Linked DNA regions of Homo sapiens: region 2 is linked to region 1. The links come from fine-mapping of genetic effects on gene expression. A gene starts in region 1. The other region holds a variant in brackets. All regions are shown on one strand. Distances are from middle to middle. Region 1 holds the start of ECT2L (epithelial cell transforming 2 like). Region 2 overlaps ECT2L (epithelial cell transforming 2 like).

Region 1 (15,514 bases):
TCCTGCCATTTCTATTTTTTACCATTTTTTTTAAACCATGTCAACTATTTTAAAGGTTCTTAATAATTTGGTCACAACCTGTATGCACATGCTGTTGTATTTTTCATTCTTTTTCATTCCCCTCAGGCTGGTTTTCTGGATGCCCAAGAAACACATCATGTTCATTCTCATCATAATGCGTTTGTTCAGGTTGTACCTCCTACCTAGAGTTACTCTCACCTCCTTGTTCTCCTTATCACGTTACATTCAAGCTGACCACTTCCATAAAGGATTTCATTTGTACCTTAACCTAGCATTCTGCCTTATATTATTATCTGTTGATTTTTACATGTGTTAAATCTCAGCCTTCCAATTGGACAAGAATGTCTTTGATGGCAGTGCTTATGTCTGTACATTTTTGCAACCTCTGCCATACATGTACTGCAAGCATTTAGTTGCCTTCAGTGTATTCATATCATTGAATTGGGTCTTGAAAAATAAGTAACAGGTGGATAAATACAGGTCAGTGAGAAAAATGAAAGACAGTGATTATAATAAGGGATGAGTAATTCATGCAAGATTCCCGTCCTATTTCCAGTCTTCTTGAGGAACAATTAAGAGAATTATAGAAAAGATTTTAGAGCTGTAATGATTTTATTTTTGGACTTTTAAACAGAATTGTTTTCCCAAAGATGATAAAGTGGTGTCTTCTCAAAAGATTTTTTTAATCTAGTGTCTTGTCATGTTTGTCTCTAATCAGCTCCTTACTATGAAAATGATTATTGACACATTAAAAATAACTCTGGGCCAGGTGTGGTGGCTCGCACCTGTAATCCCAGCACTTTGGGAGGCCGAGGCAGGAAGGTTGCTTGAGGCCAGGAGTTCAAGACCAGCCTGGGCAACATAGCCAGACTCCTCCCCCATCTCTAACAAAGAATAGAAAAATTAGCCAGGTATGTTGGCACATGCCTTTGGGAGGCTGAGGTGGGAGGATTGCTTGAGCCCAGGAGTTCAAGGCTACAGTGAAGTATGATCGTATTACTGCATTCCAGCCAGGGAAACAAAGTGAGTCCTTATCTCTAAAATTTAAAAAAAAAAAAGTCTTCAAATTCTAGACAAGAGTATAATTTACTACATTTAAAAGTTGTCTTACCACATCTGAGTGTCTCAGTAGCAACACAAGAGCTTTTCCTTTGAACATATCTCTTTTTTAAATACCGCTTTCTCTTTGCTCCTGAATGTAATTTTCAGAAATGTAAAAGAAGTACCCCTTATAGAATGAAAATCTTCTTAACTGATTAATTCAGACAAAAACTCCATTTGGCAGATGCACAAGATGTTCCAAATACTTCTGCTAGCTAAAATGAAATGTAGTTTGCTTTCTTGTGATTTGAAGAGAAGCAGCAGTCTTTACTTTTCCAGCCAAATCCAGTAGCAGAATCATCTTCCACAACAAGGAATTAAAGTAATTAAAGTGCAAGTTCAATGATCGTTTTCACTTACTGCTTTTAGTAAATGTGACTCGCTGTAATTCACCATAACTGGAGGCCTAGGCCTTGTTGAAGGCTTCATCAGGAAATGTGACGCAGAGATTGTGCTGCTGTGCTTCATATTGTTGCCTTATGGGATTATACTTGAAATGCATTGTGCTGATGTTCTTGACAGGGCGGAGGGATTTCTCTTTCCTGAGCTCACCAAACTTATTCCAGTGTTGATCGCAAGCTGTTGATGCACAGGCGTCTTGTGGCAAGCCCAGCTTCAGTTTATGTTAGACAATCAGTACACATGCTGGTGTGTTTTCCAATGGCCAGTGATAAGAAATTAAATAAGTATTTGTGAGATTTGCTATTTTTTAATAAAGTAATTGTTTTAAATTAATCTCTGTTGTCTGTTTTGAAGAAACCCATATAGTCTTCAATCTGGGAAATACAAGGGTTCAATCCTTAAAAGTAAACTGTGTTTATAAAATTTGAGGTTCTTGAACTCCTTGCAAATTCTGTACCTTGTGTACATTTAAATACTGGTGTGATGAAAGAATGTGAGCTTTAAAGTTACTTACACCTTAATTTGAATCGCCGTTCTGCCCCCTTAACTTTGTGTTCATGCACGTTTACTCAGGTTGGATTTTTTTCTTTTTTCTTTTTTTTTTTTTTAAATCTAGAAAATGAGGTCAGTAACCAAGTTGGTAGTTGTTGTATGGGGAGTAAGTGAAAAAGCGCGTATAGGATGCTTAGCACAAGCCGGGCACGGTAGCTCACGCCTATAATCCCAGCACTTTGGGAGGCTGAGGCAGGTGGATCACTTGAGGTCAGGGGTTCAATACCCAGACCGGCCAACATGGTGAAACCCCATCTCCACTAAAAACACATACACACAAATTAGCCGGACGTGGTGGCGGGCTCCTGTAATCCCAACTATCAGGGAGGCTGAGACACAGGAATTGCTTGAACTCAGGAGGCAGAGAGGTTGCAGTGAGCCGAAATTGTGCCACTGCACTCTAGCCTAGGCGACAGAGCAAGACTCTGTCTCAAAAAAAAAAAAAAAAAGAGAGATGCCTAGCACAATAGCTGATACCAGTAATGCTCAGTAAACATTAATTTCATCACCCTTTAAAAACAGCTTTATTGAAACAATAATTTATGTCATAAAATGTACCCCTTTAAAGTGTACAATTCAGTGATTGTTAGTAGATTCATAGAGTTATATACCCATCACCGTGATCTAATTCTAGAACATTTTCATCACACTAAAAAGAATCCCATTAACAGTCACTCCTTGTCCCCTAATCCCCTCAGCCTTTGGCAGCCACTAACCTCCTTTCCAGCTCTCTGGATTTTCTATTCTAGACATTTTATATAAATGGAATCATACAATACGTGGCCTTTTGTGACTGGTTTCGTTTACTTAGCATGATGTTTTCAAGGATTGAAGCTTCATCCATGTTATTGCATGTACTTCATTTCTTGTTTTGGCTGATCATATGCCATGGTATGGATAGAACACATTTTGCTTATTTATAACTCAGTTACCTTTGTGTTGCAGAAGATGCTCATGCTTCTGTCTCCTTGTTTCCAGGCCACAGAAATAAGCACCTAATTGGGGGAGGGGAGGAGAGGGACTTACTGAATATTTTTCAAATCTTGATTTTAATAATTTTTGGCTTTCTGAATTCAAAGTATTTTGATCAGTAAATTGGTCTTTTTAATACCCCTTTTAAAAATTACAGCATCATGGAGGAAACTTCATTTGGGTTGTGAGAATAGGGATTTAAGGGGGAAAAAGTCGTACTCTAGGGTCTGACAGGGCGAAAGGACACTTTGTCATGTGACATGTTTTTCTTGGATTGGTCCTGAGATAGAGTAAAGCAAAAAGCTGGTTCCTGCGGGTTGTGACAGAGCAGTGGATTGACCTTGTTTATTCACTTGGTTCATTCGCCCTTTGTGTCACAGGGCCCTAAATGGGTCCCAGGTAGCGAAATATTAGCTTATCTAATTTGTATCCTTTCACACTCCTTAAACACATGTTCAAGGAAACAGGAAAAAATGCAGTGCCTGGATTAGAATAAAATTTAAGGCCTGGTTTGGTGACAGGCACCAGTACTTTTAGCTACTCTGGAGGCTGAGGCGGGAGGATTGCTTGAGCCCAGGAGTTCTAGGCTATAGTGTACAATGATGATTTTACTGGCATACAGATGAAAAAGAAAAAGATATTTGAAATAAAAATAAAAATATAGTGCACAATGACCAGGCCTGTGAATAGCCACTGCACTCCAGCCTAGGCAGCATAGCAAGATCACATTTCTCATATGAAACTTTACTAGAATGAAACTTATGGTTTATTACATAGATGTTGCTTATTCGTTGTAGGAAAAATTGAATTACAGATGATTTTTAAAACTACCAGAGCAAACCATTTAACCTATTTGTGTACATACTCCCAGATTTCTTACACACGTTGCAAAAAAAATAGATCGTACCATTCTGCTGGTTTTCTAAGCTGCTTTTTGTAAGTAATGTACTGTGAGCATCTTTTCATGGCCATAACTATTACATACAAAAGAAAAAAACAGGCTTCACAATAAATAGTTAAAAGACATTTTGACCTGAAACTAATGAAGAAGGGTTTTTTGGTTTTGTTTTTGTACCTCCTGTATAATGCTGAAATTGGTAATTCTGCAGTAAATATTAACATTTTCTGAGGATCTGCTGAAGATGAATGTGACAAAAAATAAGAAACTCCACTTTCCTCATCACACAGCCTTAATTAACATCGCTGGCTTTGTTTGAGATCAAGCAAACGTTGGCTTCAGTGTCCAAGTCTCTTCTTGGGGTCCCACGGCCTTGGGTCTGGCACCTCTGCTGGGCACCTCGCAGGGCTTCCGAGACGTGCCGCGACCCACGGGACCCCACGGAAGCTTTCTCCCACCGCAAGCTCCCTGGAGGCAGGGAAAGGAGCCGGGACCCGAGCCTAGCTGGCCTCAAGAGAAGGGCGGTGGCTCGCACGGCGCGGGCGGCTTTGCTCACTGCAGCTGGGGAGATGCAGGTTGGCCGTCCGGGCGCGGCGGCGGGAGGGGCTGCGGGCCTGTGGGGCGGGGTGGTGGCTCCGTGTTGTTGGATCCCTATGGAGATGACCCTGTCCCTGCCCCACCCCTCTCCGGAGCTGCGGCCCGAGTTGGCGCACTCGATTTTCACTGCGCGGTTCCAAGAGGAGACAGCCGCCACTGTACCGGGCCTCATAGCCACTTCCTAGAGGTAAAGCCCGTGGCTTCTGAGCCGCTAGTCTTTTTCTTGGGGCCGCCCGGGGCACATCGCCTGGGCCGGCTTAGTTTCCCAGTGCAGTCGCCCAGGAAGACCCTAAGCAGCGCTGAGGGGCGCAGGGCCCTCCCTCCGCGACCCTGGAGTCCCTTAGCAGCTCTGGAATTAACCAAGATTCTGAAGAGGCTCTGGGGAGAAACAAAATCCACGCGTAGGGTAGGGTTTGCATCGGGCCATGCCAAGTAAACTCTTACCTCCTCCAGAGAACTGATTTGGGATCGAAGTAAAGTTCTTGAACACTTTGGAAAACGCTGATTTTCATAGGTTCACACCAACTGCCTTCTTCCTTCTGACAGTTCTCTCCCTCTTTCCTCCTATGGGGTCCAAAAATGTAGGGAGTAGGGTGGGGGCTGGGTTGGGGGAATGAGGGAGGAATACAAAAAATCTACTGTGAATATAGGTCTTGGTTATAAGGATAGCTCTAAGAGTTAATATGCTAAGATTTGATGAGCAGGACAAATAAAACAGTGGTACTTTAAAATATCGATTTAAAAATACCGATGCTGTGCTTATTAATAAACTTTGCATATGTATCAGAACACAATATCCTGACATCATTGGTGTTAAAGTTCACTGCAACCCATGCAATTGTATCCAAGCCTGTTAAAGTCTGTTCTGCAGGAACTGACATTTGTGCTCCACAGAAACCTCAAAAATCATGCTCTACAAACACTTATTTCAGTGGGAGGAAGAAGGGTTAAGGACTTGGAAGTTTTATAGCAACAGTTGCATCTTGTTTGTTACAGCTTTAGTTTTATAGCTTTAAACTTATAAATCAGTGAGCACATCCACCATTTGAAAATACCAGCACAAGTATGGTATTTTCTATCACCGCCTGTAAGATCAATAGCCCAGGTTTCCTCAAAACACGCCATTATTTTCATTATCCATTGCTTAGTGTGTACTTAATAAAAATTATATACTGGCATGTAGTTTTACATGCCCTAAATGTGGGACATTTAACTCAACTGGAATTGTCTTTCATTTCTGTTTTTTCACCAATCACACTTACTTTTCTTCTACTCCCGTTCTTTTGTGCGATCTTTAGAACCAGATACCTTTTTGGAGGCATATTTAAGGAAGTAAATTTTTGATAAATAAAGGAATCATTGCACAATTTGCATGTGTGAATTGCAGAAGTACGCGCATGTAGGTACATACCTCTGCCGAGGAGCAGTGTTTTAATTTCTAAGCCACTCTGTCTACTGTAGTGGAGAAGGACCAGACTAACTTGCATTTCTCCAGCTGTATAACAGATAACCTGTGGAAACACAGTTAATTGACATCATTGCTCTTCTGTGTGATCCCAGTGAGGATTTAGCTCTCTATATGGGCTGGCAATTGTTCAGCCATTTCATCTTTTAATCTGGCTTTGGTTGTTCTGAGAGGAAAAAAAAAACAAAAAACTTTTTTCTCTTTACTCTCACACACTCAGTACAGCCCTTCACCTCTTGTCACCAAAATGTATGGGAATTTCTTCCCACCGACAACCAATTCTCCAGTGGCCACCAACTCTACGTCCTATAATTTAACCCAGTTCTGACACTGTGTACCTGGAGTTAGTGTCAGATCCCATACGTTCAGGGCTCAGTCCCAAAAGACTGCCCCCCACTTCAAATGCCAATCACAAGTCCCAGGTTGTGACTATATGTTGTTTATGATTAACCAACCAGTTACAAATCTGGATTCCCACAAGCCCCTCCTCCGGTTTGATTAATTTGCTAGAGTGACTCACGGAATTCAAGGAAACACTTTACTTATGTTTGCCCATTTATTATAAAGGATATTACAAAGGACAGATGAATAGCCAGATAGAAGAGAGGCCCAGAGAAAGGTATGTGGGCAAGGGTGTGGAACTTCCATGCCTTCTCAGCCCCTCCACATGTTCAGCTATCCCAAAGATCCCTGAATCTTGTCCTTTGGGATTTTAATGGAGGATTCATTCATAGGCACAATTGATGACATCATTGGCCATTGGTGATCACTCAACTTGAGCCCTTCTCTCTTCCCCAGAGGTCAGAGGATGGAGCTGAAAGTTCCAGCTGCATAATCACATGGTTGGTTTCCCTGGTAACCAGCCCCCATCCTGAAGCTATCTAGGGGTCCACCAAGATTCACTTCATCTGAACAAAAGATGCTCCTATCACCCAGGAAATTCCAAGGGATTTCGGAGCTCTGTGTCAGGAACTGGGGTCAAAAACCAAATATTAGAACAAAAGATTCTCCTAGCATCCCTATCTACAAGAGTTTTAGGAGCTGTATGTCAGGAACCAGGGACAAAGATCAAATATATATATTTCTTATTATTCTACCATATCACAGGTTGTCACACAACAGGCCCCATCCTTCTTTTGACTAAGCATGGAAGTGCCAATGTCAATTTCCGAGTTCCTCATCAATATACCAGTTGTAAAGGATAGTCAGCCACGACATAGAAGTGTATTTCCAAATACATCCGTAGCAGTTGTTAAAGCAAACTAAATATGGCCTAAGATGGACTCTGTACTTTTATATTTGAATGCTTGTGGGTGAATTGCAACCTAATTTAATAGGTAGACAAGAATGAAAACCTAACTTAGGAGTATGTGCCTGTAATAATCGCTGAGTCTTGGCCAATCCCAGGAGCCGTACTTCAACCACTCATACACTGCTGAGTGTTCAAACTGTGTTCAAATAAGGCAAATGCTGAGCTGTAACCAATCCAGCTGTTTCTGTACCTAATTTCTGATTTCTGTACATCACTTCATTTTTTTGTGTATAAATTTGTTCTGACCACAAGCCACTCCGGGAGTCTCTCTGAATCTGCTGTGATTCTGGGAGCTGCCTGATTCACGAATCGTCCATTGCTCAATTAAACTCCTGTAAATTTAATTCGGCTGAAGTTTTTCTTTTAATATCCTTTTATATCCAATTCAAATTAAACTTACCCTTCAGGAAAAATCTAGTATAATTTTGAAACTTGATAGGCAATTACTACCTGTGTAACCTTGGATGATTTTCTGATTTTTTTTTTTTTGAGACGGAGTCTCGCTCTGTCACCCAGGCTGGAGTGCAGTGGCACGATCTCGGCTCACTGCAAGCTCCGCCTCCCGGGTTCATGCCATTCTCCTGCCTCAGCCTCCGGAGTAGCTGGGACTACAGGCACCCGCCACCACGCCCGGCTTATTTTTTTTGCATTTTTAGTAGAGACGGGGTTTCACTGTGTTAGCCAGGATGGTCTCGATCTCCTGACCTCATGATCCGCCCGCCTTGGCCTCCCAAAGTGCTGGGATTGCAGGCGTGAGCCACCGCGCCCGGCCTCTTTTCTTTTTTTTTGAGTCAGGGTCTCACTGTATCGCCCAGGCTGGAGAGCAGTGGCACAATCTTGGACCTTGGTTCACTGTAACCTCCGCCTCCTGGGCTCAAGGAGTCCTCCCATTCCAGCCTCCCAACTAGCTAGGACTACAGGTGAATGCCGCCACACCTGGCTAATTTTTGTACAGATGGGGCTTTGCCATATTGGCCAGGCTGATCTGGAACTCCTGAGCTCAAACAATCCACCCACTCTGGCCTCCCAAAATGCCTGGATTACAAGTGTGAGCCACTGCATGCCGACTGGATGATTTTCTCTGCCATGTTCTTCTCTTGTATAATCTAACTCCCAGGGTGAATCTGAAGATTCAATGAGCCAGTGTATGGGGGAAGAGATTTTCTAGTGCCGTGTCAGTCAGTGTAGACACTCAAACAAAAATTAAGATGTTAAATACAACATTTATTACACGCCCCCCTCCCCATTTTGATCTTGTTACTTAGCATGTTTGTTGGATCCAGTTGCAAATGAGGAGAGACACAGATTGGGGTCTTCTATTTTATTCCTTTCTTGCAACAGACTTTAGAAGCATTTAGGCCCCTGCTTTTCAGAGCGAGATAACAAAGGGGCCTCCAGTTTACATCACCCACACTGGAGTTTCAATTCAAAGTAAAAAGCTGGGCTGTGAGATGGCAGCCACAATGTTTTTTCCAGTAGAGACATGCCACTTTGTAGAAGAACAAGATCATTCTTAAATGATCAAGGAAAAACTTCATGGCACAGTATTTTAGCTTCTGTAGAAAAGACACACAGAAAGGATGGAAAATGGTTGAGAGTTTGGTTTTATACACTAAGGTTTTGAGCCTCTCTTGGTATATAGAAGATACTGGTGACTGCTGTATTGTAACCAGAATGCACAATAAATATTCTTGCCCCAGAATGAATTCTTATCTCAAATGAATCCCTTAAAATGCTTCCATTTTTTCTAATTTGCTGATGTCATGAAAGAATAATCTGTCAAATCTACATTTAATTCAATTCTAAGCTTATTTTACCATATGACTCATTTAACATAATGATGGAAATTGCTAGTAAGAAGATCACAGAGTTGATAAGTTGTCACAGTTGTGACACAGTTGTCAAATCCTAATAGTGAAGGAATTTGTTTTTTTCTTACTAATAACTTGCTTTTTTAGCCCCTGAATTTGGAAAATTGGCAGATGCATGTCTCTGTTTGTGCTGCTATAATAAAATACCTGAGACTGGGTAATTTATAAAGAATAGGAATGTATTTCTCACAGTTCTGGAGGTTGGTAAATCCAAGGTCAAGGTGCTGACAGGTCTGGTTGGTTGGTGAGGGCTGCTCTCTGCTTCCAAGACGATGCCTTGTTGTTGCATTCTCCGCAGGGGAGGAATGCTCTGCCCTCACATGGCAGAAGGTGGAAGGGTAAATGAGGTGAATGCTGTGTGAAGCCTTGTAAGGGTCTGAATTCCAGTTCACAAGGGAAGGAGCCCTCATGACCTATCTCTTAAAGGCCCAACCTCTTACTATCATTACATTGGCCATTAAGGTTCAAAACCTGATATTTGGAGGTGACACATTCAAACCATAGCAATTATGGTTTAAACTGCAATTATACAACAATTATCCATTTACTCATTCAGCAAATACTTGCCAAATACCTATCCTATGGCAGACACTATTGTGGGAGGAAGCTTCTAAAATGGCTCCCAATGACCTCAGCTTCCTGGTCTATATGCCTTATGTGAATCCACTCCCCTTAGATGTGGGTAGACACCTATAATGCAGGAGTTGACAAACTTTTTCAGTAAAGGCCCAGATAATAAATATTTTTTGCTTTCTGAGCCATATGGTCTTCCTCCCAATTACTTAATTTTGTTGTAGCCAAAAAATCAACCACAGAGGCCAGGTGCGGTGGCCCACACCTGTAATCCCAGCACTTTGGGAGGCTGAAGTGGGCAGATTGCCTGAGGTCAGGAGTCCGAGACCAGTCTGGCCAACATGGTGAAACCCCGTCTCTACTGAAAATACAAAAAACATTAGCCAGGCATGGTGGCATGCACCTGTAATCCCAGCTACTCAGGAGGCTGAGGCAGGGGAATTGCTTGAACCAGGGAGGTGGAAGTTGCAGTGAGCCAAGATCATGCCACTGCACTCCAGTCTGGGTGACAGAGCGAGACTCTGTCTCAAAAAAGAAAAAAGAAAAAAAATTCTCCAGTAAGTAGATGAAGAAAAATACTGAGTAAATATGGAAACAGTAGGAAAACAGGAGACTCATAAATGAAATTTATTAAAGAAAAGCAACCACAGATAATACATAAATGAGATTGTCTGTATCCCAATTACTTTATAAAATCTGGTGGTGGGCCAGATGTGGCCTGCTGACTGTGTTTGCTAAACCCCGGTTCTGATGAATCAAAAAGTGATGGTGTGTCACTTGTCACTTCTGAGGTTACGCCACACAAGGGCTCCGGCTTCCATCTTGCCTGCCCGCTCTTGCTCTCTTGCTCACTCACTTGGGTGGAAGTGAGTTGCCATTTTGTGAGCTAAACTATAGAGAGGCCCACATGGGAGGGGAGCCTGTGGCCAACAACCAGCGAAGAACTGAGTCTCTCATTCCAACAGTTTAGGAGGAACTGTATCCCTCCAACAATCAGTTATGTGAGCTTGGAAGTTAATTCTTCCCCAGTCCAGCTGTGGCATCCTCAGCTGACAGTTGAATGGTGAGAGACCCTAAGCTGGGGGACCCAGCTAAGCTATGTCTACACTTGTCACTCATAGAAACTGTGAGATAATAAGTGTTTGTTATTTTAAGCCACTGAGTTTTGGGACAATTTGTTACACAGCATTAAATAAACAGTATGATAACCCCATTAGATAATCAATACACACTGTGATAGTCTCCATATAACAATGAACAAGGGAAAATGCTGGATATTATTTTCCCCTTTTGAAGATTCGTTGTGAACATTAAGCATATTAAAACATCCAAAACATCCTACAAAAAAGAAATAAGTTTAATATCTCAATCATTTAATCACAGATCCTGTTTTCTGGGGAAATACTCATTAATATCTTATGGAACTACTATTTGGAGGAATGTAAAAAGCTAGAATAGGAAAAGAAATTATTCCATTAAAGAAGTAGTAATTGCCAGGCTGCCATTTCTCCCTGGGTTGAATAGTCAACGAAATTAATATCTTCACATAATCAAAATAATATGAGGCAGGCAGTGCAAGGTGGCTCATGCCTGTAATCCCAGCACTTTGGGAGGCCGAGGTGGGTGGATCACTTGAGGCCAGGAGTTCGAGACAGCCTGGCCAACATGGTGAAACCCCATCTCTACTGAAAATACAAAAATTAGCCAGGCATGGTGGTGTGCACCTGTAATCCCAGCTACTCAGGAAGCTGAGGCAGGAAAATCGCTTGAACCCAGAAGGCAGACATTGCAGTGAGCCGAGATTGCACCACTTGCACTCCAACCTGGGCGACACAGAGAGAGACTGTCTCAAAAAAAAAAAAATAATAATGATAATAACCCTGAGCCAGGAGCAGTTGGTTATGCCTGTAGCCCCAGCTACCCGGGAGGCTGAGGCCAGAGAATCACTTGAGGCAGAAATTTGAGGCTGCAGTAACCATGATTGTGCCAAAGCACTCCAGTCTGAACAACACAGTGAAATCCCAACTCTAAAAAAAAAAAGGAAAGAGAAAAAGAAAATAATCCTGTTCAAATTTGTACATATATGCATGTACACACACACACACACACACACACACAATATACTATACTATGCTCACATATTTAAGCCCACCAGCAGAGACAGCGACTATTCTTTCTGTAATGTTCAGCTCATTATATAACTCAGTAATCCCTTAACACAGAGTATAATAACAATTTTGCGAACTTGCTAAATAAAAATCCCATATGTTGGCTCTTGGATTTCACATAACAACAGCTGGGCATCTTAAGAAACTAAGAATTTGTTTTCATTTAGTGTTGATTCAGAAGGAGGTATTTAATTTCCCATATTGCCAAGAGGTTTTTATCTGAACAACACATTATTATAATATAGTTTGCCAAGACACATTACTGTCTGGCTTTACACATGAGGAAACTGAGGCCCAAATACTAAATCACTTGTAAAGCCTCAATTTTGGGGAGTCAAAGCAGAGATCCAAATCTGGTGCTCACTATGCCATGCTGCTCGTCTGTAACATTTCTAAAATTGTTCCTAATATGATACATGCCTTTCTAATATATTCATTGAAAAAATGTGCTTCTTCTCTTGAAGTGTAATAAGAGCAGAGGCACTGCAAATGTCTGTCTTATTCTAGAATTATTCTGACTCTTTAATAAAGTTTCTTCAGCTACACCAAGCCACGTTGTACTCTCTCTTCTTGGAATTTATAGCAACAGAGGGTTGCTTAGAAACTTAAATGTTTGTGATGCTTGTATCCCAGCTAGAAAATCACTGACAAGTGGTTGTCCACCTTGAGTTTTACCAACTCCAGTAATGGACATAATCTCTGGAGACAGCGAGAGCTGTGGAGTGATTTTTTTCCCACTTAGATTGAGCCAAAATCTTCCTCTCTGACATCATCCACTGTTCCTAATTTTGTCTTCTGGGGATTCACAGACCATGCGTAATTGATTTTATACATATGAAAAAATTTTAGATAGTTGATGCGTGTGTATATAGTGTGAGAAAGGGGTCCAATTTCTTTTCTTTTATAAAACAGATATTCCGTTTTCTATAAATGAAACAATCCACCCTTCCCTTTCTGATTTGTCATCTAACAAGTGTCCCTGTATACCTGGGTCTATTTTGGAGTTTCTCTTCTGTTCCACAGGTTTTGTTGTCTGTCCCCAAACTAATACCTTTATTATCTTATTACTACAGCTTTATAGTAAGTCTTGGTATCTAGAAACACAGCTCCCTTCCTTGTTTATCAAGACTACTGGTTTTGGCACTTTAAAGTTCCATAAATATTTTAGAATCAGCTTTGAAGTTTTAAACACACACACACACACACACACACACACAATATTTCTTGGAATTTGTTACTGAGATTGCATTGAATCTGTAGATCAAGTTGAGGGAGTTAATCTCTTCACTCTACTGAGTCCCCTAATCCATGAATAAGACATATCTCTCCATTTATTTAGGACTTTAAAAGTATTTTTCAATAAAGTTTTATAATTTTCTTCATAAAGTTGGCACTCTTAATTTTTTCCAGGTACTTAGTGGTACTTGATGTTATTGTAAATATCATTTTATAAACTTCTTGATTGAAATACAGGACATAGAAAAACACGCAGATCATGAGTGTAACGTTCAATGAATCACAGCACGCAGGGAAGTCTAGGGCTCCCTCTCTACGTCAGCACCAGCATGCAGAATAACCTCTTGTGTCCCCTCCCAATCATTACCCTCTCTTTCCTCCCCACAGGTAAACCTTATCTTGACGTCTAACACTACAGGGTAGAACTTTGGTAAATGAACCCGTGCCACATGTATTATTTTATTCGCAGCTTCCTCTGTGTAATATATTGTGTGATTCATCCTTACTGTTTTGTGTAGCAGCAGGCTGTTCGTTTCATTGACGTATAGTATTCTATTGCGTGAATGCATGACAGTAGATTTATCCACTGGACTACTGGTGGATGCTTGGGTTGTCTCCAGTTTGGAGCTATCCAGTGCAGCTGTGCATCTTCTTGGTGATATATTTTAGTCCACATGTATATTTTTTCCAGTTGGGTCAAGTTTGGCATTATTCTAGAAATAACGCCAAATAGTTTTTCAAAGTACATATACCAATTTGCACTTTCACCAGCTGTGTGAGAGCTCTGGATGCTCACCAACACATGGCTTTGTCAGTCTGTTCTGGATAACAAACCATTCCAAAGTTTAGTAGCTTGAAATAGGAAACGTGTTATTTTTCACAATTCTATGGGTTGGCTGGCCTCAGCTGGGCAGTTCTTCTCTTTGTATGTAGGGGGCTGGGGTGATTCATGTGGTTGCACATGGGAGCTTAGTTGCAACTGAAATATCCAAGATGACTTCATTTGCACATCTGGTGCTTTGACGGGGGTGGCTGAAACAGCTGGGGGCTGGCTCAAACTCTCTCCATATGGTCTCTTGTCATCCAGTATCCCAGCCCAGGCTTATTTACATGGCAGCTGGATTCCAAGAGTTCAAAAACAGAAGGTATAAGTCTTCTTAAGGTCCATGCCCAGAAGTCACACATCATCACTTCCACAACATCATTGGTTAAAACAAGACAGTGGTAGTGCAGATTGATTCAAGGAGAGGGAGAAGAATAGACTCCACCTCTTGATGGAGAACTGGTATGTGGGTACAGGGATGGGAGCAATTGTTCCTGGCCATGTGCACAGACAATATACTGTGTCCCTCCCTCTGGCCACAAGTCACAGTTGCAGCACACAGAATACCTTTATTTCATACCAAGACACCACCAAAGGGTCTTCCAATTATGGTATGAGGCTTGAAGCCCAGTCTCTTGTGATCTCCGTCAGGTCCAGTTGCAAATGAGGCTCCTTGTTCATAACTCCTCTCAATCTGGAGACCTGTGAGCTCAAAAGACACATTATCTGTTTCCCCAGACACCCAGCTTAAAATGGTAGCTCAGAGACTTTTTATTTCAAAATTTCTTGGTCCTTCTTACTTCAAGCTGGCCATGCTTTCATGAGAACAAGCCTCTTAACAATTTTGTGGGCTTTGTATATATGTAATTGTAATTTATTCTATTAGACAAAAGCTATATCCACAAGTCTCTTTGAGACAGGTCCTTCTCTGCTTTGGGCTATGGATTGGGGTGCTATGGGACAAGGACTTTAAGATTCTTTGAAACTCTTTTACAGTTGACCCTTGACCAATGTGGGAGTTAGGGGCACAAATCCCCTGTGCAGCTGAAAATTCACGCTTTTTTTTTTTTTTTTTTTGAGATGGAGTCACGCTCTGTCCCCCAGGCTGGAGTGCAGTGGTGAAATCTCAACTCACTGCCACCTCCACCTCCCAGGTTCAAGCGATTCTCCTGTCTCAGTCTCTCGAGTAGCTAGGATTACAGGTGCCCACCACCACGCCCAGCTAATTTTTATATTTTTAGTAGAGACGGGGTTTTGCCATGTTGGCCAAGCTGGTCTCAAACTCCTGACCTCAGGTGATCCACCCACCTCGGCCTCCCAAAGTGCTGGGATTACAGTCGTGAGCCACTGCACCTGGCCACGCATAGCTTTTGACCTCCCCAAAACTTAACTACTGATAGCCTATTGTTGACTGGAAGCCTTAATGATAACACAGCCGATTAACATTTAATGTATGTTATGTGTATTATATACTGTATTCTCTCAAGAAAGTAAACTAGAGAAAAAAATGTTATTAAGAAAAT
Region 2 (15,514 bases), 74 kb after region 1:
TATCCTTTCTTCAAGGAACTGCAGAAGAGCATCAGTGGCAGGATGATAGGTAAGCAGTCTTGCTACTTCTGTTGCAGGTTAATTATGAAGTTGCTTTCATATCCCGAGTAAATACAAGTTTAGTTATGGCGCAAGTAAAATTTTACTCTTGAACATCTCCAGTAAAATTTTATCTCCTAGGTTGCTCACACGGCCTTTCAAATATAACGAACAACCACTAACAACAAATATATTCAGGTTCAAAATGTTGAAGCTCGTTCTTATTTTAACATTTTACCACCTTATTAATTCTTGTTTGTCACTTATTTACCTAGACACAATTTGCTGTTTGCTAAGCCAGAGAGCTGTGCACTTTTCCCACTAGAATTTGCTCTGAAAGTTAAGCGCCTCTTATACCCCAGCACCTATTACATAAATTGTTCTACAATTAAAGTTCTATTTATTTTCTGTCTAAAATATATAATTCAGTGATGGGCTCCATGGGCCTTTGCTGAGCCTATTAGACGTGGTTGAATGAATGTTTCCATTCACACCCCAGCCCCATGACGGAATGAATGATCACAGCAGAGCCCTTTGAAAACAATTTACTTCCTCAACTTTGCATCTTTACCTAAATTAGTCCATTCTTTAAGTATATTTCACCATCTAGGTAAAGAGTTTTTCTTTTTCTCATCTGCAACTACTCATATCTATTCAATTTTTCCCCTACTACTTTCCGCCTGACTAAAACACCATATGAATCAAATCACCCTCTATCTATGCCTTTCTTCTTTTCCTCTGCCCAGCTCCATATTTAAGGTCTGTTTACATAGTTACCATCTACACAAGAGCTGTAACACGCAAGCGTGCAAGTAGATATCTGTCAATGTATGTCCTATATCTCTTTACATAAATGCTTCCAAAACAGGGATTTGCCTTCCTGCTTATTTGTACTACCTACTCTATCACATTTAGGAGGTGTTCAACCATTATTTTAAAATGGTTATGAAGTTGTAAACAGGGAGAAAGTATTTTTCATAGTTTTTTTTTTTTTTTTTGAGACAGAGTTTTGCTCTTGTCCCCAGGCTGGAGTGCAATGGTGTGATCTCAGCTCACTGCAACCTCTGCCTCCCAGTTCAAGGGATTCTCCTCCCTCAGCCTCCTGAGTAGCTGGGATTATAGGCATGCACCGCCATGCCTGGCCAATTTTTATTTTATTTTTATTTTTTAGATGGAGTCTTACTCTGTCACCCAGGCTGGGCCTCCCAAGTAGCTGGGATTACAGGTGTGCCTCACCACGCCCGGCTAATTTTTGCATTTTTAGTAGAGATGGGATTTCACCATGTTGGCCAGGCTGGTCTCAAACTCCTGACCTCAAGTGATCTGCCCATCTTGGCCTCCCAAAGTGCTAGGATTACAGGTGTGAGCCACCGTGCCCAGCCTATTTTTTGTATTTTTAGTAGAGACGGGGTTTCACCATGTTGGCCAGGTTGGTCTCGAACTCCTGACCTCAAGTGATAAGAGTATTTATTAAATAATATATGTAGGCAATGAGAAGAAAATGGAAAAACAATTTTTTAAATAACTGCATGGTGTTAAAAATATTTTAAAAATTAAAAGATGTCCGTGTATGTATGTTTGCATGTTATTTACTTTGGACTTTAAAATATTTATATATTTGAAGCCTGGTGTAGTGGCTCATGCCTGTAATCCCAGCAGTTTGGGAAGCCAAGGCAGGTGGATTGCTTGAGCTCAGGAGTTTGAGACCAGCCTGGGCAACATGGCAAAACACTGTCTCCACAGAAAAATACAAAAGTTAGCTGGGCCTGGTGACGTGTGCCTGTAATCCCAGCTACTTAGGAGGCTGAGGCACGAGAACTGCTTGAGCCAGGGAGGCAGAGGTTTCAGTGAGCTGAGATCGCGTCACTGCACTCCAGCCTGGGCAACAGAATGAGACCCTGTCTCAAAAAAAACAAAAAAACAAAAAAACAAAAAAACAAATGCCTACTTGAGCGCAGAGATAAAGGAGAATATAGAGGAACTCCTGGTAGGATCGAGAGTCTTACATTTAAATTTATTGAGCTCCTTTTCACATGCTCTCTCCTTATTGTCCAATTTATACATTTCATTCAATATCAGCTTTGCCGGAGTGGGCACTTTTTATAGACTAGACATTTAAATTACTTTGGTTCATTTTATATTTTATCATAGTAGAAATCCTCATTGCATAATAGAATTTTTACTGCTATTCTTTGCATTTTTATCCACTAAAAAAACAACTGTGGGTCCAGTACGGTGGCTCATGTCTGTAGTCCCAATGCTTTGGGAGGCTGAGGTGGGCAGATTGCTTGAGGCCAGGAGTTTGAGACCAGCCTGGGAAACACAGCAAGACCCCATCTCTACAAAAAGTTAAAAAGTTGGCTGGCTGCAGTGGCTCACGCCTGTAATCCCAGCACTTTGGGAGGCCAAGGCAGGAGGATCACTTGAGGTCAGGAGTTCAAGACCAGCCTGGCCAACATGGTGAAACCCGGTCTCTCCTAAAACTACAAAAAAAAAAAAAAAAAAAAAAATTTAGCTGGGCGTGGTGGCAGGCACCTGTAATCCTAGCTACTCAGGAGGCTGAGGAAGGAGAATTGCTTGAACCCAGGAGGCGGAGGTTGCAGTGAGCCCAGATTGCGCCACTGCATTCCAGCCTGGGTGACAAGAGCGAGACTCCATCTCAAAATAAATAAATAAATAAAAGTTAAAAAATTAAGCAGGCATGGTGGTGCATGCCTATAGTCCCAGTTACTTGAGAAGCTGAGGTGGGAGGATCACTTGGATCAAGGCTGCAGTGAGCTATGATTTTGCCACAGCACCCCAGCCTGGGCAACAGAGTAAGATTCTGTCTCAAAAAAAAAAAAAAAAAAAAGAAACTGTGAGGACTGAGTTGTTGTTTTTAAATCACATTTCTTACATAAATCAATTACAGGGCATGTGGCCTTGTATTTACAGGGCAGTTTATGTTTGACACCATGGGTATGACCAACATTCTAAACAACCAAGATACTGCGCAAGCTCTGGCAGATGGATTGATGGAGTTGTCAAAAGAAGATTCTGTAAGTGTTTCTTTGAAGAAAGTAAACTATGAAAACCAACATTTAAATAAATTCTGTTTGCAGTTATTATTAATTTTTTTGACCAGTTTATCCCTTTCAGAGCACAGTTCCTCAGAGAAATTACATCAGTTTATAAAAATAGCCACTAAGAGATTCTGGGCCCAAGATGTGTTAAGTACACAAAACAGACAAGTAGGAAAATCTTCTAGGTTATTTAAAGTTTATTACATTGTGCCCTGTTTTCTGTCTTGTGCTTAATTTCAGTCAGAAGTGACTTTTTTTTTTTTTTAATAAAACATGTTAGTGGCTTTATATTTCACATAAACTTTACTCAACAGAGAAACCAATTCCTAGTTTCAGGAGAAATCTGAGAAAGTGTGACCCAGATGTGAAAAGATGACGGGAAAAGGGGCTAGATGAGAGAGGAAGGGAAAGAGAACACAACGGAACGGAAAGAAGCAAATCAGTAATTCGGCTGGGGATGGGTGTAGGAGAAACCCAAAGAAACAATTTCATCAGACACAGATCCAAGGTTCTCTCTCATTAAGGTCAGTCTACACTTCAGAAAACAGTGAGAAGGAGCCAGTCCACATTTCAGAAAATAGTGAGGAGAGGCCAGTCTCCAGACAGCTCTCCCAGCCCCAAAGAGGACAGCATGGCTATAGGAAAATGCAATGTGGCCAGGCGTGGTGGCTTATGCCTGTAATCCCAGCACTTTGGGAGGCCGAGGCAGGCGGATCATTTGAGATCAGGAGTTGGAGACCAGCCTGGCCAACATGGTGAAACCCCGTCTCTACTAAAAATACAAAAACTAGCCGGGCATGGTGGCGGGCACCTGTAATCCCAGCTGCTCAGGGGGCTGAGGCCAGGGAATTGTTTGAACCCAGGAGGTGAAGGTTGCAGTGAGCTGGGATCGTGCCATTGCACTCCAGCCTGGGTGACAAAGCAAGACTCTGTCTCAAAAAAAGAAAAAGAAAAGAAAAGGCAACGTGCAGCTCTCCCTCTGAGGGGAGTCGGGAATAGAATGGAGATAGGGCTGCTGTTAACATATTCAATAATCTAAATTCTCTAGTTTCCAAGGAATTCTCAAGGAGAGTCTCAAATCTTTCTCTTCCACCATCATAATTCTGCTTTGTGGGTGAATTTAACATTGTCTCTGCACACATTCTCTCTCTCCTTATTATTGAGTATCTGCTCCTGTTTCAGTGTGGCTTCCTGGGTCTGCACCAGGCATTTCTGGGCGTAGCTGTCCTGCACTGGGTGGGGGCTGCGAAGCTGCATTAGCTGTAGTTTGTCTCCTGTGAAGTCTCAGCTCTGCAGTGAGGCTCAGGCAGCCCAATGACGAAAGGCCTTTGGCGAGCCTTGCTGATAAAATGAGCAGGGATATTCACAGAGGTGCCCCCTCACTGTCTGCCAAAACACTGAAGGATTACTCAGCATGCTTGGTGTCAGTTCAGTGTACTTATTTCCACCTAATTATTTAAAAATAACCATGTATGATATAATTTGGATGGTGCTCAAACCTATAGCCTGAGGGGAACCAAATTTGAGAGCCCCAGCATGTTTTCCCAGCAATTCTGCTACTGCAGCCTCTCTCCCAGGCCTTCTTCCTCCCCCTGAAAGACAACAAGATCCTTCCTGTCCCGTTTCCTCATTTGGCCAAGGGGTTGGTGTGGGCCACTTTGGTTCCAAAGATCTTGAGAGACCCTCCCATAAAATTTTGGTGTCTTAACTGGATTGTGACAAATTGTTGAGAACCAAGAGTACATATGGTAACTGGAATATGAGATGAACTAGAAAGTCTCATGTACTGACTTGAATTGAGCACTAGTCACTCTGTTTTCTGGACATGTCAATTAATTAGGTAGAAAGCTGAAATCCCTGCTAAAAAGTGTGCTCTCTCTTCTGCTGCAGTATTGACATCTGTATTTCAGAAGAATGTTTTAAATGGGCATTTTTCTTGCGGGGGGGTTGGGCATTCTTTAGGACAAACCTCTGGAATTTTTGTCGTATTTTCTGCTGAAGAAATGTGGCAAAAAGATCAAAGATGTTGAAGGAAATGTTATTCCAACAAAATGTGACCCAAAGACAACATTCAGTTTATTCATGAAGGTAAAGTTGCTGCTGAATTTTTATGCCATTGCTTTTCTGTAGAGTTAGGCACATGTGATAAAGAAATTCATAAATCATTATATGAGCTCTACTGGGAAGCTTTAACTTGTCATTTCTCCAAAGAATTTTATTTTCATGAAGTATTACTAAAATAGGGTGTTTTGTAGTTTCATAATATGAGTAACATTTAAGCCGCTTAAAAGCATAAACTGCAACATGTTAACTTGAGTAACACTATTTGGTTGTGGGGAGAAAGGTAGAAATTTGCATTTTGCTTTGACATTTATGAGCCCTGAGAGAACTTAAGGGGAATTTTTTTTTGAGGGAGGTGAAACTAAGAATAGTTCTTTTTTTTCTTAGTTGAGATTCAAATTCATTAAAGAAAAAAATGGGTTTAAAGCGAGTTCTGGCTGGGCGCGGTGGCTCACGCTTGCAATCCCAGCACTTTGGGAGGCCCAGGCGGGCAGATCATTTGAGGTCAGGAGTTTGAGACCAGCCTGGCCAACATGGTGAAACCCCGTCTCTACTAAAAATACAAAAATTAGCTGGGCATCGTGGCATGCCTATAATCCCAGCTACTCAGGAGGCTGAGGCAGGAGAATCACTTGAACCCAGGGGGGTTCAGTGAGCCAAGGTTTGCTTGAACCCGGGGAGGTTCAGTGAGCAGAGGTTGCAGTGAGCCAAGATCGCACCACTTTACTCCACCCTGGGTGACAGAGTGAGACTCTGTCGTAAATAAATAAAACTAGTTCATCAGGCCAAAAAGAATAATTTTGCCAGTACTATATTAGGAATCCAAGCATTCTTGTTTACATGAAATAACCAGGATTCAAGAAATGCTGAGAATTACATTGTCGTTCACATAACTGATTTCTATGTAGGGGAAAATACTGTTTTAGAACCATTTTATGTCCATAGGAAAGTCACCTGTCTTTGATGTTTGAAGGCGTAGGATGGCAGTCCCTAACATAATCTCACCATGGAGGGCTGCTAGGAGTAAGAGACTTGTGAGCACCTCTAGCAGGCAAATCATTTGTTGCCCTATTAACCTGATATTCTGGAAGTATTTGTTAATGCTTCTTTAAAGGACAGTGCAGGGCAGGGCAGGAGCAGACATAGAGAACTGCTGGAGGCAGCATTCCCTCTGCCTGCTGCCCCAAATGAACTCAGCAGCACACGGCCTGCCGTCATTAAGACCCATCCTTGGCCAGGCGCAGTGGCTCACGTCTGTAATCCCAGCCCTTTGGGAGGCAGAGGTGGGTGGATCACTTGAGGCCAGGAATTTG[A/G]GACCAGCCTGGCCAACATGGTGAGACCCCGTCTCTACTAAAAATACTAAAATTAGCCAGGCATGGTGGGGCACACCTGTAGTTCCAGCTACTTGGGAGGCTGAGGCAGGAGAATCGCTGAACCAGGGAGGTAGAGGTTGTAGTGAGCCAAGATCGCGCCATTGCACTCCAGCCTGGGCCATAGAGTGAGACCCTATCTCAAAAACAAACAAACAAAAAAAAACAAAACAACAACAACAAAAAACCCTACCCTTCTGCTGTTACCATAGCACAACCCTTACTTTAATCCTCCCCTCCCCGACAAAGTGCCCAAGTGGCTTATTCTTCCCAAACACAAGCAACTCCCTGAGACAGGAGTCTTTATTTTATTTTTTAATTTTTTTTTTTGAGATGGGGCCTCGCTCTGTCACCCCATGCTGGGGTACAGTGGCACAATTATAGCTCACCATAGCCTTGAACTCCTGGGCTGAAGCCATCCTCCTGTCTCAGCCTCCCAATGTGCTGGGATTACAGGCCTGAGCCACCACGCCTGGCCATCCCAAGAGGAGTCTAAATGCCTTTCCAGGGATATCTAAGCCCTTTACAGGTTGAAGCCCTGCTTGCTGGCTGCCCTGCCCCCAAATCGGTATTTTCAGGAAACTTCTCAGGCAGAGGGCAATTCCTCATCTTTTTAGTTCCATTCTCTAAATATTTGCAGGAGCTAACCAGCTAACCACATGCTAGACCTTCTGCTAAATCCTGGGACTAGACAGCAAAGTAAGACAGTTCCTGCCTTTGTGGAGGATGAGGCTGATACACAAATAGGTGGTGCAGCATGATTAGCACCTGTTAACAGAACGCACGGGCTGGGATGGGAACCCCAGGGTGGGAACGCCAGATGGGCATTTAGTCCAGACTCCTCTTTCTGCTTCTCAGAGGCTGCTGCTTTCATTTCATTATGCCAGCCACCATCTCTTTGAAATTCTTGGAGATTATTCTCCCAAAAGGGTGGACATAGTCTCCATCCATCCTTTAGCCTATGAAAACCTGAAAAACAGCACCCAGGCCTCTAATACCACTCATTTTCCCTTGGTTCACTAAAGGGAATGATCAACATATAACCACATTACACAGGTTCCAAATTCTTCCAAAGTCCTTTCAACATCTGCTGATTCCTGACTCCCTGGAATCCTTATTGGATTCTTTCACCCACCTTTATTCCTAAGGGTGAAGCTATTACCTCGAAACCCAGGCATACAGATCCCAGAAAACCCCCTCTTTGGAGCAAGAAAGCAATAAGGACCAAACTAAGGTGCTTCCTCCTCTGAAGTGCCACTCTCACATGTGAAAGACCTAACTCTTGGTGAGAACCATTTCTGGGCTCATTGAAACCTAAGGGAATGATCACTTGGAGCAGTTCCTCTGAGGCACTTTCTCCTCTAGTTCCTCTGCCAAATAAAATTCAAAATGAATGAAGTCTTTTCAACTGGCTATTGATCCGAACAGCTCATTATGTTCATAAAATAATGCATGAAATTTGGGCTGAAAGTTCCTCATTGCTGGAAATCAGGCCCTCTATTGCTACATTGTCTGCCTGTAATAAAACTGGAAAAATGCAAAACTCCTTAATGCCTGGAAATTTGATTAAAAAAAATCGAATTAGAAAAAAATACATATTAGATTCTCATTTGATTCTCTACTATTTAACACTAAAGAGCTTGGGCACAAAGCCCACAGAACAAATGCGGAGACCTCTAGGAGGAAGAACCACAGCTAAACGTCAGTGTTGCATTAGGATAAAAATAGAAAAGCTGATTTTCCTTACATTAGGGTTTATTTTTAAAACTGGATATTCATTCAGAAGCCTCAGGAGACAAAGGAGGGGAAAATGAAAGCTTCTCTGAGATAATTGCTTTAAAGACCCTTCCAGCCGGGAGCAGCGGCTCACGCCTGTAATCCCGGCACTTTGGGAGGCCGAGGTGGGTGGATCACCTGAGGTCAGGAGTTTGAGACCAGTCTGGCCAACAAGGTGAAACCCCGTCTCTACTAAAAATACAAAAATTAGCTGGGCCTGGTGGTGGGCGCCTGTAATCCCAGCTACTCGGGAGTCTGAGGCAGGAGAATCCCTTGAACTTGGGAGGCAGAGGTTGCAGTGAGCCAAGATTGCAGCACTGCACTCCAGCCTGGGCGACAAGAGCAAGACTTTGTCTCAAAAAAATAAACAAAACAAAAAAAACAAACCCTCCCAGAGAGGCTTGTGTAATACGGATTATCTGTCAAATCCAGGACTGTGTGTGTGTGTGTGTGTGTGTGTGTGTGTGTGTGTGTGTGTCCATCCATGTATCCATCTATCCATCCACCTACCTACCTACCTATCATCCTGCTGCCCAATCATTATTTGCTCCTGGTTTTTGTCTGCCTATAATGTTTACACTGATACCATGCAACCATGGTGATGGCTGCCCGCCAGAATTATAGTTGTTCCTGAACTCTACCTGTCATTTTCACAACTATTTCTGGCCCCTTATCCAGGCAGCTGAGTGTTTGCTGGCAGAAGCATCAACAATGACTAGAATGTCTCTGGAAAATAGTGTCTGCCCATGCTCCATCCTAGAGAAAAATTCCTAACATGTTCTTTGTGAGCTTTTTTTTAATGGTCTTCCTTATATGTCCCGCAGAGCCAAGGCAAAGACCCACCAACCCAGAATGATAGTTGTCTTATAAATGTGCAAAGTTTCTGCCATGTTACTTCCTCTGAATTCATCCATAAAAACTAAGTAAAAGATAGCATCGGAATCTAAAATTAAGCTGTAAAAATTCTGGCAATTAAACATATAATATAAAATGAGTGAACTTGCCAATTTTAGGTTCAAACAAAATTACTATGCCAAATCAATGTCCTATCCACAAAGAAAAAATTATATTTAAAAAAGTAAGTTGCTGCTGAGCCGGAATGTGAAACAAAGCCCAACTGTAAGCGAGCAGGTTCTAAAATAGCCAAGGTGGTCTGGGGGGGTCCATGATGACACCTGAATTTTAATGCATAAATTTTCATGTGAGCCTGTACAGTCAGGTGATCTCCCAGAGAAAGATGGCTCCCTTATCTGTGAGATCCACAATACAATTGTGTGCTGTTTGGGTTATCTTAATCTTGGCCCAACCTGAGAGTTTTGTTTTTGTTTTTTGAGACAGTCTCACTCCATCATCCACGCTGGAGTGCAAGATACTGGCTGGGCACAGTGGCTCACACCTGTAATCCCATCACTTTGGGATCCCAAGGCAGGAGGAACACTTGAATTTGAGACCAGCCTGGGCAACATAGTGAGACCTTGTCTCTAAAAAAAAATGAACAAAATTAGCCAGGCATGGTGGCACATGCCTGTAGTCCCAGCTACTTGGGAGGTTGAGGTGGGAGATCAATTGAGCTTGGGAGGTCGAGGCTGCAGTGAGCAAATATTGCACCACTGCACTCCAGCATGGGTGAAAGAGTGAGACCCTGTCTCAAAACAAAACAAAAACAAGTAGATCTCCTCCCTGGCTCCAAGCCATAAGTATGGATACATGCCAGGCTGGTATGAGACAGCCACAAGTGCAGAGGACAAAAGAAATCATTAGAAGACTCCCTGGAGCAGACAGGAAGCACTCAGGCTCAGGTGGGACCTCCTGCCATCTGGGACTGAGCTAGCTGGCTGCAGGTTTGCAGACCAGGGTTCTTCTGCAGAGGCTCAGGCTGCCAGAGCAATGTGGCATCTCCAAAATAAAAATTCGCTTTTGCCTCAGTAGAGTAAGGTAAAAGGAGCCTTGGTTACAAATTGAAGTTATTCTTCCAGCCTCATCCCTGGACATCCAAGGGTTGCCATTGGTAGTTTTGTCTTTGATGAGGAAGGCAGCAATAACGACCATTGACCATCATCATCCCTCAACATAAACACAGGACCACTGCTGTGTTGCTAGGGTAGACCCTGGGGTACTGCAGGCAGCAGGGGTGGGGGTGGAGGGCTTTAAAAAAATGTGCTAAGTTTGAGAGAGGCCACAGCAAGAATAGTTAACAAGGTAAAGTGAAGAAAGAATAAGCCTTATTTAAATGTGCAGGTCTAGAAAGGTTATGTGAACTGTTTATGACACATTTTCACTTGGTGGTGAAAAAAGGAGTGAGTTTTGTGAGCTTTTCCTTCTGGATCTTAAAAATAAAAATAACCTATTTGCCCTCAACTGAGAAGGAACAGAGCAGAGCTGAGGCAAAAACCTGTTACCTGGCCAGACTTGGTGGCTCATGCCTGTAATCCCAGCACTTTGGGAGGCCAAGGCGGGCAGATTACCTGAGGTCAGGAGTTCCAGACCAGCCTGGCCAACATGGTGAAACCCCATCTCTACTAAAAATACAAAAATTAGTGGGGCGTGGTAGTGGGCCCTGTAAGCCTGCTACTCAGGAGGCTGAGGCAGGAGAATCGCTTGAACCTGGGAGGCGGAGGTTGCAGTGAGCCGAGATTGTGCCATTGCACTCCAGCCTGGGCGAGAGTGAGACTCCATCTCAAGAAAAAGAAAAAAAAAAAAAGAAGTCTGTTACCCAGGAATGTGTGTGAGTCTTTAAGCCTGGGAGGAGCCCCAGCCCAGCATCACTTCCCTGGCTCCCAAGGAAGAGGGAGCTACGCTGGATTTAGTTCTCAAGTATTATGTAGTTCAAAAGAAGCAAAGGCTATTTTTAAAAAACATAAAATTGAATGTAAGAGTGGCATCCCATTTGCAAGCACTTAACTCATTGTGTGTAGGGAACACTGTGGTTGGGGCTGAAGGCAGAGGCTTCTGAGGGCCTCCTGCGGGCACAGTACTGAGTTTTCAGAGATGTCAAGACCTGCCTCCAATAACCAAGTTTCCATTCAATCTTCAGGAAAGAAATGTTGTAGAAGACAATTCTTGGGACACAAAGTCCAGGCTCAGCAAAAATGATTTAAATTTTGAAGCACTGATTAATCTGGTAAGCTATTATATAATGTAACTTTACCATTGGTTTTGCTCCTGATAGTGAAATTTCAGCCTTTATTCTGGTTAGTTCTTCATTTTCCTTGAAAATTTCCCTTTGGGGGATTAAAAAAAAAAAACCTCAAAAATTATTAGAGAGAATTCAGCTGGCAGACTTTTTTTTCAAATAAGCCCCAGACTGAAAAGAAGTTGAGCCAGAAGGATAGCAGTGTAACATCTTGGAGCAAAACCAATCTGTATGTTACTCCCTGACTTTCCTTTATGGTACTAGGATGTCTTTTAAAGAAATGGCACATGGACAAAGGCTCACAGTTTCTAATTAATCTACCAACTTACAGTCTGACTTCAAAAGTTGAATCTAATGAACACAATGTCTAGGGCTCCGTCTTTCTGTGTCAAGGGTAAAGTGTGGAGGAAGCTGCAGCCTCAGCAGGGGCCGGTCTCGTCCTGTGTAACCCACGGCATGGGCACACTGTTTTGTTTTCTTCAACACACAAACACACTTATTATCACCTTTCATTCTCAGAATCCTATAAAGGACACATCCCTAGCCACATTTTATAGATAAAGAACTAGAGTTAAGAAAAGTTACATGGGGGAAAAAAGTCAAATGACTTCCCTAAGGCCAGACAATTGGGCAAGAAAAATCTTAAGTCCTGCAGCCCTGAGCTCAGACCTGGGGCTCTTTCCCAGCCCCAGACACCCTGGCTGCAGACAGTGCAGGCCGTGGAGCCCCAGGACATGGATGCCCACTTGCCCCAAACCCATCCCTAGGAACACCCAGGAGGAGCATGTTCCATAGAGCAGTGGATATGAGGGTATCTCATCTGACTATTAGTAATAATACCTCATAGTGGTTTCAAGATAACAACACAAGGTTTGACAATGAAAACCTTAGTTCAAAATGATTATAAATGTTGGATAACTCCAATATGTAAAAATATATACATACAGAAATACACATATAATATTAAAAAAATAATATGGACTGTAAGCCAACTGCCAAGTAGGATGCAGATGTATTTTTTACCTTATTAGATATGTCTAAATAGGTATTCTAGACAGACCATGTGTTTGGAAAATAAACAAGAAGAGTTTGGCAGCTCATGTTTGTAATCCCAGCACTTTCGGAGGCCAAGGCAGGTGCATCGCTTAAGCAGAGGAGTTTGAGACCAGCCTGGGCAACATAGAAAAACCCTGTCTCTACAAAAAAATTACAAAAATTAGCCTGTTGTGGTGGCTACTCTGGTGGCTGAGGCAGGAGGATTGCTTGAGCCCGGGAGGTCGAGGCTGCAGTGAGCCATGAGTGCACTACTGCACTTCAGCCTGGGTGACAGAGGGAGACCCTGTCTCAAAATAAAAAATGTAAAAAAAGAAGAGTGTGTTTATAATATTTCAAATACAGTGAGTTCTCTCATTTTTCTCTTAAGTTTTTTTACATTATAATTCCAGTTAATGAAATTATGGTTAACTCATCTTGGTGAAGATCACATAGCATTACACATTTTTTCATTTTAAACAAGGCACTTATTTAAACAACAAGGTGTTTGACTTGAAGGAAAAACTATCTGGTAATCATTTTTATCAACTAATGGATCCTCACTTAAAGACAGATTGCCCTACATATAAGAGGTATGTACGAAAACGTTATAAAATGTGCCCTTTGTGTTACAATGATAAATGAAAAACATGAGAATTCTCCAATTGAACAAGGTATGCAAGGATTTAGATACATATATATATACACACACACACACACACACACACACATACATATATACATATATTGCTGTTGTTAAAACAATGAGAGCAAGATAACAGATTGGAATATAAAGATAACTGCTGAATGAGCATGCCACGAAGGGAGAAAGGAGGTCCTTTTGTTTTTGTTTTTGTTTTTTGAGATGGAGTCTCGCTCTGTTGCCCAGGCTGGAGTGCGGTGGCATGACCTCGGCTCACTGCAACCTCTGCCTCCCAGGTTCCAGTGATTCTACTGCCTCAGCCTCCTGAGTAGCTGGGATTACAGGCATGTGCTACCACACCCAGCTAATTTTTGTATTTTTAGTAGAGACAGAGTTTTGCCATGTTGGTCAGGCTGGTCTCGAACTCCTGAGCTCAGGTGATCCACCCGCCTCAGCCTCCCAAGGTGCTGGGATTACAGGCATGAGCCACCGCACGTGGCCAAGGAGGTCTTTTCACAGAAGCATTTTTCCCCTTCTCATCTCCATTTGATGTTGATGGTATACCATTAGCCACGAATACATTAGCCATACCATTAGCCACTAATTTTTTTAAAAATGCTTGTGCATATTCATCAGTTACCTTATGTACAATAAAGGAATGGGGAAGGAAATGAAAGAATAGAGCAAACTATACTGTAATAGTTAGGATGTAGTGGAACCAGATTGCAGTTTTTTAGTTGAGAATGCAGTCTTGGTCTGTAAGAATAGCCTCTGGCGTAAAATAGCAAGTTCTCTTTTTACTGGACCCCTCCTGCCTGCTGCTGAAACACATCAATTGTATCTTTAACCTCCACTTCCAACTCTGCAGGTGTGTCTGTTTCATTGATTGGCCATCTGACAAATTGGAATCTGATCCGCCTCATTGACAAGCCTTGCTATTCACAATAGGCTTTCATTAGTTTACTAAGTGGTGTATGCCTGTTAATCTTAAATTGCACCAAGGAACCATCCTGCCCACCACCCTAAAATTAATATGAGCAGTTCTGACCCTTCCTTGAGCTTTCTGTTCACCATGCTGAGTGCTGGAGTCACCTCAGGTCCGCAAGCAGCACAAGTGGCAGAAGCAGTATTGTCATATTTTATTGGGGGCAGTGTGGGGTATACTTAGGGCTGGAGGGAAAATAATAATTCTAGGCTAAAATTGAAGGACATTATGTTTTTGAAATTTAGATATTATAAATTTTCTGGTATAAAGATGCTCATTTTATAGCTTTTGAAATATGCAAATAAAAGAAAAAAATTATCTAGTACCAGCAATAAAAATTAATTTCTCTCTCCATATAAACATAGCACACACAACATCAGGGTATGGAATTTCTTTAGGCCAGTGTATGATTTTCACCTCTGCATTAAAAAATAAAACAAGAGGCTGGGCAAGGTGGCTCATGCCTGTAATCCCAGCACTTTGGGAGGCTGAGGTGGGTGGATCACAAGGTCAAGAGATCGAGAACATTCTGGCCAACATGGTGAAACCCCGTCTCTACCAAAAACACAAAAATTAGCTGGGCATGGTGGCATGCACCTGTAGTCCCAGCTACTCGGGAGGCTGAGGCAGGAGAATTGCTTGAACCCAGGAGGCGGAGGTTGCAGTGAGCTGAGATCACACCACTGCACTCCAGCCTGGAAAAGAGAGTAAGACTCCATATCAAAAGAAAAAAATAAAATAAAATAAATAAATACACAAAACAACAGTTGGAAACATAACATAGCACATCTGGCAACCTGGCTAGCCAGGAGAGATGGGCTCATAGCTCCAAGTCTATCCTTCATACTGAAGTTAGATCCTTAATACTGAAAGAAGAGCATATGCTTCAGATTTTTCATATGTCAGCTGGGGAAGCAAATTAGTTAATAATGAAAAGGTGTCTTCACCTGTTCATGCTGCTGCAGTAGAATACCTGAGACTGGGTAATTTGCAAAGAACAGAAATTCTTTATGGAGGCTGGGAAGTCTAAGATCAAGATGCTAACATCTGTCAAGGGCCTTCTCTTGGAGTGCTCACATGGTGGAAGGCAAGAGAGGACCAACTCCCTCTGCCAAGCCCCTTTCTAAGGGCACCTGATCCCATTCATGAAGGAGGAGTCCTCATGACCCAGCCATGTTTTCATGACTCCACTTCTTAATACTGTCACATTGGCTACACCTGAATTTTGGAGGGGACACATTCAAACTGTAGCAGAGGGCTAGCTCATTTCAGTTCTTCTGTTTGCAAGATAATCAATAAAACACTACTTGGAAAAAGAAATAGGAAAACAAACAAGAGTAGACAAGCCAAAGTCTTCCTCACTAGACTGTAACCTCCATGAAGACAGGACTCTGTCTTGTTCTCATCATTACA

The links. PIP is the estimated chance that this variant, and not a neighbour inherited with it, causes the effect.
Region 2: its variant is fine-mapped to the expression of ECT2L in left ventricle (GTEx, PIP 0.90).

The regions. Positions count from the first base shown.
Region 1 is chr6:138,791,463-138,806,976 of GRCh38, forward strand. It overlaps ECT2L (epithelial cell transforming 2 like), which reads left to right and starts at 4,625. Exons shown (of 22, transcript NM_001077706.3): 1 at 4,625-4,730. CCDC28A (coiled-coil domain containing 28A) reads left to right here. Exons shown (of 6, transcript NM_015439.3): 6 at 1,287-1,857. The coding sequence ends at 1,341.
Region 2 is chr6:138,865,130-138,880,643 of GRCh38, forward strand. It overlaps ECT2L (epithelial cell transforming 2 like), which reads left to right. Exons shown (of 22, transcript NM_001077706.3): 12 at 1-49; 13 at 2,974-3,077; 14 at 11,343-11,429. Among named protein-coding and RNA genes, the nearest start is that of ECT2L, 77 kb to the left of the region's middle. The variant A/G (reference allele first, on the strand shown) is at 6,476.